2 separate regions of the Homo sapiens genome follow, and region 1 is linked to region 2. A link means that fine-mapping ties the variant in region 2 to the expression of a gene that starts in the linked region. Tissue or cell type: whole blood. Region 2 holds a variant in brackets; the other region holds the start of a gene. All regions are shown on one strand. Distances are from middle to middle.

Region 1 (5,000 bases), 39 kb after region 2:
ATACAAAACCTACTTTTGTATCTTTATTTTGGAATTTCTTGTTCTATTATAAATATGGAAGTATCCCTATTTCAGAAGACATATTTTGTTAAAAATGAATTGTACATATTTAAATATGTATTTTTGCACAGGTCTTTTTTTCTGATATCCTGTTTTGGTACAATTGAGATCATCTAGTATTTATTTATTAATTAATAAAAGTAAATACCTTTTTATAATTTGAAGTGGTTCACTGCCAAGCCAATAGTTCTAGAACCTGCCTCCTTTACAGTTTTAAGGGATGCCTCTGTTCTGTGAAAAGTCTTTGTCCCTTTTAGTGTCTCGGGAGTGGATTCATACAGATGAAGTGGGCATTGCTTCTTCCTGGTTGCCTGGTTTCCCGATAGACTACATGTAACTAAGTGACACACTGCTTTTCTTTTGTTAGTATTTTATGTGTGGGAGTATGTGACTGCGTGTGTGTGTGCCTGTGCGTGTGTGTGTATACTCAGCACATGTATGTTACTATGTGATGTGGTTTAAAACTAATGGAAAAAACTGAAAGTGCCTGAAACTAGTTTTAAGCTTAGACAGAATCTCTTTAAAAAGACTTGAATGTTCAGTTGAACTTTTGGAGTTTGCTTTTTCCACCTAAATATTGTTTCTAAAATTTTAGGGGCGGAGTTGAAAACCACCAATGCTGGTAATTTTATAAGGTATTTTAAAATTAAGACCTCTTGGTTCATAGTAATTCAATTGGTGATGGATTGCCTGGTGGCACCAAGGGTTACAGATCTTTTTGTCAGCCAGCAACTTACACGATGTGTCCGTTTTGTTATTCACTCATGAAATACAATTTAAAATATTTAAAATATTTTGTATTCCAAAAATATAATACAAAGAAGTACCTCTGAGAACATTGAAAAAAATGTATAATTTGAAAAATGTAACTTATAAGGGCAGCTGTCTTCCTGCAAGAGTTCTGTTGCCAAGGAATTTCTTAATGTCGCTCATTCTGTCCAGGGGGTTTGGGGCGATTGGGCTTTGAAAAAATATTCTTAAAAGTTTGTTTAGCAGAAAATAATCACTTTTACATTTTGTGCAAAACATTTTACATTTTCAGATAATTTAAATGAGCACTACATACTGTCAGTGTGAATGTAGGGCCTTGAAAGCATTTTGCTTTTTTTTTTTTTTTTTTTTTTTTGAGCTTGGTTATAAAAGCAATCTCCTGTGTTAAAAACGTGTGAATAGTTTGATAATTTGTACACATAATCAAGAGCATCTCAGCTGGACTTTGTGTTGGCTGCTGTATAGAACATGAACAAATGTCAAGGGATAGAAAATTACTTTGGATATTTAAAAGAGAAGAAATATATAGTCTATTTGTTTTGTAACAAGTTTCTGTAAATAAAATAATTTATACTATTTATAAGAAAAGGTTGTGCTTTGCTTTATAAGAAATTAGCTTGTGGAACAAACATGTTACTAAACGGGCAATAAAATTAGGACTTCTCAATAAATAAGGTTGGCTGCATGAAATATTGTACGTTTCTGCCTCGTTGTGATACTAAACCCTTTCAGTCTACTCTGACTTTTCATCACTTTTGGCATGGAACACCCTTGTGAAGCCCCTTCAATTTAGCCTTCCTCTTATATAAGCTAAATACTTCTAAGGCCTGGGGATGTTTCCATCTGGGGGCACAAAGCTTTGCTTTGGATAAATTAGTAACTGTGTAAACAGTGAACATTACTGTATTCTGGCCTTGCATGTTTGTGAAAGAAACGAGGGAGTTGATGGATTGAGAAACACATTCTATTTGTACTTAGGTGCAAATTTGATGACATGTAGTTTTGGTTTAAGATAAGCTTTTTATCCAGACCCGGTCTAATCTCTTCCTTTCTTTTACATACCTCCCTTACTGGCAATACAAGTGCATTTTAGTATTATTTGGAACACAGCATAATCATTTACCTCTAGAAATCCAGACATTTTTACTGTTTGCAAATAAACCATTCTGATAAATTATTTTTGTTGCTTAAAATAAGAGGAGGAACCGCTGTGTGTTAGCAAGAATGTCCATACCTGATATGAAAGAGTCATGTTGGCTTCAGTTCCTACTGCCCTGTGGACTTCCCATTCCCTCCTTACTTGAGTCAACCATCCACTCAGTACTTTCCACAAATCTAATAATGAGGTGCTCTCTGTAGGTAAATCCTTTCACTATGGCTTGTCCTCAAACCTCCCAAGAAAAGGTTCAACTGCTCAATCTCTTAACCTTTTTAATTCCATTCCCTTGCAGGTATCCCGGCCCTGCATAACAAGATGATCCCAACTCAAGGAAAGGGGTTTAGCAGTGTTGGATCTTGGCGTATGTGGGATTTAACCAGGCAGAAAGGCAGACAAGAGTAAGATTCTAGGCAGAGAGAGCAAATGCGTCGAGCATGGGTATGAACATGTGAGGGATAGAGAATAATTCTGCAGGAAGTTTGCTGGATGGAAGGGCCTTATAGGGTTAGAAAAGCTGGTGTCAGATTGTCAAGGACTTTGAATGTCATGGGGCTTCTCTTCCAGGAACACATGGGATCAGGCTTAGATTAACCCAAATGTAATTGTCAGAGCCCAGAGATATTTCATGGTCCAGTCCTAGCACTGTGCAGCTGCCAAAAGTCAAAGCCATTCAAATCTGTACTGAAAACTGTGGAAAAGCAAAGGAGCACTTAAGTCTCTTTCCCCATGTCTTGCATTCTCACTCTCTTTTGCTTCAAAGATCTGTCTTTACCTGCCCCTGTCCCCAGTCCTAACAAAAAGCACTCCCCTAAATCAACTCTTAAGTTCCTCTCCCTTCTCACTCCTTTCTTAGTCTCCTCTTTCTGTAAGAAGTTCTTGCTCCTGTTGTTAATGGAAGTTAATTAAAGTAGTATTTCACCTTGTAAGGCTGTAATTCTTGGCACTTGTTATCCTCATTTTCTACATCCAAAGACCATGGACCAGAATATCTCTTAGGAGGTAAGGGAGAGTGAGGCTATCAGCCAAAGAAAAAGTCTCCAGGGGGAAGGGGAGAATCACTTATAATTTAATACTTTGTGGAAAAAACATCTCTGCCACCTATGGCCCTCCAATAACAATGGAAGACAGAATCAACAGGTGAGAACCTTGGGACAAAAATAAGTTACAAAGCTGTTGTAATCCAGGTAAGAGCTATTAAGTTTCCAAACGAAGGCTGACTGTGAGGATAAGTGATACTGATTTCAGAAATCTTTAAAAAGTAGAACCAACAAGCCTTGAGGTCTAACTCTGTTCAACATTAAAGGGAAGAGTGAGTCTAAGAAGACTTCAGGTTTCTAGCTTGGCCAAACCAATTGAGCTTTAAGTGAAATGTGCGATATGGTAACAGAGAAGGAAAAAGACATAACGATAGATTTGAGCTGCTGGTGGGAAATTCTGGTTTAGTGCCCAGCTGGCTGTACAGGCTGGTTGGACTTTAGGAGGGAGGTTTGAGCTGGAAAATAAAGATGGAGAGTTGTCTTTCAGTTTTAGATCATCAGTGAGGTCATAAGGGTAGATGGAGTTTACCTGGGAAAATTAAGTAGCTATTCGATTTGGCTTATTATTATGTTAAAATAATACTTCTCTAGTGAAGTACTTAATATGCCAGATACTGTGCCAAGCATTTTATATACATCCTCTCTTTTACTAAGCCCTCATAGGGCAGGTATTTTGATTCCAATCATACTGATTGGAACTCCTAAGAAGGTATCTTGCTTAAGGTCCCACAACGAATAGGTGGCAGATCCAGGGTAATTCAGGTCTGTCAGAACAGTGATTCTTAATTTTTTCCCTCCTCAGACTCCAGGAGTCACATGAAGTTATGCATCCTGTCTGACCGAGGCACAGGCACACCACATTTTTATATTCCGCTTCCAGGATATCACAAACCTGAAGCCCATCCTCCATGGCCCAGAGAGAAAACCCAGGACAAAACCTTGGAGAAGACTATTTTCATGAAGACAAATGGAGAAGGAGCAGTAGAGTAAAAAGAGAGGTAAGGGAAGGCATTGAGATGGTTTACAGGGTTAGATGTTTTGAGTCAATCCCATTATAATTACCAATGCTATCTACCTATTTAGTTAACGTTTTATTGCCCTGCTGTTTTCTCCAGGATAATTGGAACAGCATGTATTGGTTGGGTGGAAAAGATAGAACTTGAGCAGGGAGATTGCCAAAGAGTGAAGATGTGGCTGAGTGATTGATGATGGTCTGAACTGGGTATTCAGGGAAGAGAACTAGAAGCCAACCATGTAGAATCTATGCAGGTGCTCTTAAGACATTGGTTTGACTGGAATTATCTTCTTGTTAGGTCTTAGGAATCTCCTTCCAGGTAACTTTTTCTATGATTAGACAATTGATTTGTTCAGGGTCACAGAGCAAAGTCCACATTTAATTCCACATGGCCAATAAAAGTGAGGGGCTACAAGGTGAGATCCAGGGGCCAGAGTTATCAAAGTGATACAGCACTTTTAGGAATAGGACAGGGAATGGAGGAATTGGAATTCCAGTATTACTTTCAAAAGCAGAACTGGCCAGAGGAATTGGAATTCCAGTATTATTTTCAAAAGCAGAACTGGCCAGAGGTGCTTGTGATTCCTGGGTGGAAACCATGGCAGTGGACAGAAGCAGCATGGAGGAAAAGAGCACTGGAATTCAGGCTGAGGAACTGTGAAGCCAAGGGTGTTGTATAGGTTGTCCATTTCAAATTAGGGTTGCTTGGTTCTGGGATGATTTGCATGGAAGAGGGGAGAGTGACTTGGAGATGTGTGATTGAGGACAGTGAGCACAGTGAGTTGATGGTGTTGCTGGGTTATAAGCAGCTTCAAAGAGAAGGCATTTTGAATGAAGGTGGAAACATAATGGCCAGGAGAACAAGCAAAGGACTAGGAAACAGTGAACTTCATCTTGGCCTCAAGTTCCTGAGGTGCATATGAATAAACAGTCTCTAACCCAGAGGGTTTCAAGAAAA
Region 2 (5,396 bases):
ATTCTCACTCTCTTGCCCAGGCTAGAGTGCAGTGGCGTGATCTTGGCTCACTGTAACCCCCACCTCCCGGGCTCAAGCAATCCTTCCACCTCAGCCCTTCCAGTACCTGGGACTACAGGCACACGCCACCACACCTAGCTAATTTTTGTATTTTTTGTAGAGGCAGGGTTTCACCATGTTGCCCAGGCTGGTCTCAAACTCCTGGGCTGAAGCAATCCACCTGCCTCTGCCTCCTGAAGTGCTGGGATTACAGGTGTGAACCACCACACTCGGCCAGAATTTTGTATTTAATTTTTCTTAGCTACCTTCACAGTGCATTTTTGTAACACAAATTTTTTAGACCTGTTTCTTTATAGATTTTTTGATTGGCATATGAATATATGAAATATATACACCTATAACGTATTTTTATATAAATACACAAATGTAATCATCTCAACTATTTTCAGTGCAGCCTTTTTCTTATTTCATTGGCTCTTTCAACTTACCTGCCTTCTCTAACTGTAGCAGTCCATGCTACGCTATAAATCATACATGCTGCATTCTTAGTATGTAACTTAATATGCATCCTTGTATATTTTTCTCATGCTTCTAACTCTATCCAGGCACATAGAATCACGTATTTTATTAGTAGGGGCTTTTGGTGATAGTTTTACAAAAAAGTGGATCCTATTATGCACACTTCTGCTCCTTTTCTACTCAACAATACCTCATGTAAATCCATTCACAGCCCTGGATAACACTAATCCCCTCTTTTTAATGGTTGCATACTGCTCTAAAGTGTGGCTGTGCTGTAGCTTCCTCTGCCAGGCCCTCTATGGACATTCATTTTGTTTCTTGCTTTTTGTCTGTGTGAACCAAACAGCAGTACCCACTCTGGTACATACATACTTAATTACTGGTGGTTTAGTTTCTGTGGGATAGAGTCTCAGGAAGGGATTCCTGGGTCACAAAAGACTAGTTATTTGCAGTGTTAATAGCTGCTGCTGGATTGCTTTCCAAAAAGGCTGTAATGCTTTATATCTCTACCAGCCACTATGAGAGTTATCTCCAAAGGAGTAGGTGTTGTATTTATTTTTCTAAGCTTCCATTTAATTTTCTAAAGCCTCTTACAATGTTCCTTAGACACATAAACACACACACACACACACACACACACACACACACACGTATGATTAATTTTAATTTGAAATAAATTCCTCAAACAACCACAAGTCTAGTAATACTTAATAATATGAGACAAAGAGATCTTTCAAAACGAGTGATTATTTTAAAAAATATTTAAACAATTATAGGCAGTTTCTCGGGCGTCTATGGGAAGTTTCTATTCATTCTGTATGGAATTTAAGGAAGAAATCTCATTCTCTTATGCTAGGATTCCCCTGTGCAAAATGTGAGGCCTCCTAGAGGATCATAATTTTGAGTGTGATTAATTGCAAGGCCAAGGAAAAACTATGGCCAGTTTTGTTTCTGATCTCCCTATCCTCTTTGCAGTTGGTATGACTGGTCACCTTATAAAGGTGTTCATTGTGTGTTTCAAATAATGACTGGGCTGAGGTCACGCTGTGGTTAACTCAAAGCCTGTGTAAATCAGGCCATGAAGATATATTTTATTTGCCTGCCTTACACACATGAAGTGTGGCTGAGCCCTGGAGAGCCATCGACCAAAAGATCAGCTGGAGGAAGGCTGCTGCATGGTTTTAGCCCCCAAGGTGAATTATCCCCATTTAAATTTCATCTCCCACCTCTCCTAATCCAGTGTGAGTACCTAATGAGCTCTGGATAATAACATAGCAACATTTCTAGGTGAAGCTAATCTGATTCTGGATAGCAGGCTTCCAGGCCCACAGCCGAATGAATTGCTTGGTATTTCCAAGTTTGAAAATACTTTTTTCCCCTTTCAAGTGCTCCTTGGCAGCAGGTAAGGAATGTTAAAGCTCCTGTAAGTGCCAATTAAGGCCAATTATAACTCACCCGGCCTGCTGAGACAGTGAAGTGGAGTTAGTGGAGACTTGTATTCCTGTAAAATGGAGAACTGGCTTTCACCAATGATAGGAACACAGTATTTCATAACTGCCAACAGCTTGTTTATTGCCCTCCAGAGCACTGAATGACACCTCT[G/A]CTGGCTTCTCAAGGATTCAGTTTAGGAAATCCCAAGATTTGTAGGGGACTTGACTAATTTCTATAATAGAAACCTCAGTTTTTCTGTTTCTGTTTAACTCCTCTATCATCCATCCAGTTTCTCCTTGGTTGTAATCATAATAGCTAACATTTGCTGAACGTTTAACAAGTGCTGGGCGTTGCATTACCTGCATTATCTCAAATTTACTCCTCACCCCAGGCTTGTGGGAGGAGGCAGTATCAGTCCTTAGCTCTCCTGAGTCTCTTGCCCACGGCTGCACAACTAGAAGTGCTCAGACTGCAGGCTGGCTGCCCCCTGAACCCAAACCTTGAGTGTTCCTCCTAGCCTCCTGCAAGTTTGCCTGTTTGCTGCGAATAGGCTAATGCACAGTTCAGAACTCCCTTTGTGCACTAGAGTAAAATTGACATGTGTACACCATCCAAACCACAGCTGATACATATAATTTTCGGTCAGTGAGGCACGGATGTTATTCTATTAAGATGTTATTTTAGTCTGTAGTATTTTTTTAGTCTGTAGTCTTAATTTTTTTCTTAGGGAAAAAGAAATATGACCATGTCCCCAGACCTAGACAATTAACGTCTGAGCCATCATTGGGATATTTAATATCAAAATAAACTTTATTTGGATAGGATATCGAGAAACGGTTTGAAGAAAATTGTGATAATGCTTTACAAGCAGAACAAAGCAGTATTTGCTTAAACATTTTATTCAGGGCATTAAGGGGGCACATGTGAGTGTTTAAAATTTTAATCTGAGCTTTGTTCTCAATTTCTGTGTATGTGTACAAAATTAATATTTTCCTGGCATACACGACCATTCATCCCTTTTCTGATGTAGGTCTTAAAAATAAGTTAAAATTCGTTTTTCTCTTGTTTATTTGTGAACTTAAATATAGACGTTTGTTTGTAGCATTTAAGAACATTTGCTAAAATTCACCCTGGTTTTTTACAGGGTTGCAGAACGACTTGATTCTTAGAACTGTCTTGGATTGGCTGACTCTCATAACGATATTTTTCCCCACTGTATTTCGTACAATCACTGTGTACGAAAGGGAATATTAGAAAGGCAAGCATTTGTGCTAGGAAGGCCAGCAAGGACTCTGGTGTTCTGTCATACAAGTACAGTGATAGGGAAGTGAGATTTAGCTCCAGAAAGATCCTCCTACCCTGTTCTTTTCTGCTATTGATGGCATTAAGGAGATTCCTTGGCTACCCCTGCAGGGAGGGCAGGTGAAGTAGGGTGAACAATACTAAGACCTGTGGCAATCAGGTTTTACAGCCATGGAATTTTTTTTTTCTAGCTTAAGAAAAGCTTCAGTGAATTAACTTAAAATTCTTATTTTCGCTTATGAGCTTTTAAAAAGATTTGGGAGATGTATCCTCATCCTGTGCTTCTAAGGCTTGCTGATGGCTCTTCCCTTGCGTTCTTCTAGTGTCTTCTAAGGGCTTCCATAGTTTTGGATTGTATGAACGTTACTGTAAGGAATCTGGGGGAAAAAAAGTGGGTTTCAGAAAACCCCCTGGGTCTTAGTATTGTTGACATGGGTTGGGATCTGAATCCTTGTGAAAATAGGGCAGTGCAGCTACTGTTCTTCTGTTTTAGAGTCAATTTAGAATTTGGTCTAATAGAAGCCGTTTTCATGCCTCTCTCAGAACTCTTCCCCGCACCTTTCAGGCTAAATCATTTCCACATATGTAATTCATGACTTTTGCCAAATATTCTGTATGGGGTGATAGGATTCTGTAGAAGAATCTTTTGCTGCTTCTTTTGACATTTAAAAGAGTTCATTTTGAACTATCAGGTATCTAAGTCATTATTATCATAAAACTCAGATCACTTGGCAGTTTTTTCCATGTCACTTGTGGGGATTTTTTGTTGTTGTTTTGTTTTTATTAGAACTCTGTCACCTGGGCTGGAGTGCGGTGGCACAGTCATAGCTTACTGCAGCCTCAAACTCCTGGACTCTTGCCTCACCCTCCCAGGTAGTTGGGATTACAGGTGTGAGCCATTACACCCCATTCTGTGTCATTTGACAGTAGATTTGTTGATTGGCCAGAGAGAGGGAGTGTGATAGGGATGATAGGGAAACAGGCCAGGAAGACACTGTTTTCAAGGGGGCACTCAGTGAGAGAAATTCTTGGATTTAAAAGTATGAAAGCTTTAGTCAGTCCTCTAGTGATTGAACAACAAACTGGACAAATGTGGATATGAAATTATACATATTTTACAAATATGCACAGAAAGTGGGTTCAGATATTTTGTTACTAGATTTAGGAAGGAAAAGTATGCTTAGGAATAATAAACTTTTTTTGAAAAGCTTAGCAACTGTAGATAGTATAGGGGAAATAAAACCTGGAAAAATGCTGCAGGTATTTTATAGAAATGTTTAACTTTAAGACCTTTAGGTCTACCGAGACTTAAAATGTAGGTTTTTAAATAAATCATGTAAGTTTTGTAATATACCTGGTAGTAGCTTTGTCAGTTTAAAGGTATTCAGAAAAAAAATTCACAAAATATAAGTAATTTGCATTTTAGCAGGTTAAACTTATAAATTCCATCTTCCCCAGTTTTGACAAGTTGCCTTTCCAATAGAAAGATTAATTTACACCAGCCAGGACGCCTTGTATGACCATATTAGATGAAATTAGACTCCACCCCCTGTTTTCTGTTGATCTGCCAGGACCTTTGTAATTCAAGTGCTTTTTACAGTAGTAGCAAATGTTACATAAGCCCAAACATGGAGCATATTTGGAGTTGGTGGGCAGACCCAAATCATGATGCAAGCCTGCAGTAGCAAGTGTGCAATGAAGCACAACCAAATTCTGTGAATGGAAGGTAGCAAGACGCCTCTCCAAAGCAGCCCTTCTGCGCAGGAGCTGAAAGCTCCACTGGGTAAGTTTTCTGAGGCAGTTTTCAGAGTCTGGGCTTGGCTCAGGGCCCAGCTCTGGATGAGCCTGTGGACGGTGGGGTAGGTCTTTGCTAACCTTACATAGAACCAAGCAGATTTGGGAAGAGTTTATGCAGGCCTTTTTCCTCCTGGCATTTGTCTTGCCTTGCCAGCAGGCCAGGAGGGTTCTGCTGCTCAAGTAGTGGAGGGAGGGAGCCTGCAGAGCTAGGGGATCAGCGTGGGTAATCGCAGCCACAGGGATTAGCTGCTGCAAGCTGTCCACAGAAGCCATTCTGAAATGTCATTTGAGTGATCTGGCCAAAGTTCAGATGCAGACGGGAGCCGAGTTTGTTATTAACTCCAACA

The links. PIP is the estimated chance that this variant, and not a neighbour inherited with it, causes the effect.
Region 1: PSMD6-AS2 starts here. The variant in region 2 is fine-mapped to the expression of PSMD6-AS2 in whole blood (TOPMed, PIP 0.96).

What each region holds. Positions count from the first base shown.
Region 1 is chr3:64,002,044-64,007,043 of GRCh38, forward strand. PSMD6-AS2 (PSMD6 antisense RNA 2) reads left to right here and starts at 1,979. Exons shown (of 3, transcript NR_038286.1): 1 at 1,979-4,025. It overlaps ATXN7 (ataxin 7), which reads left to right. Exons shown (of 13, transcript NM_001377405.1): 13 at 1-1,419.
Region 2 is chr3:63,962,941-63,968,336 of GRCh38, forward strand. All of the region lies in intron 5 of ATXN7 (ataxin 7), which reads left to right. Among named protein-coding and RNA genes, the nearest start is that of PSMD6-AS2, 38 kb to the right of the region's middle. RefSeq lists enhancers at 1,600-2,104, 5,373-5,396. The variant G/A (reference allele first, on the strand shown) is at 2,122.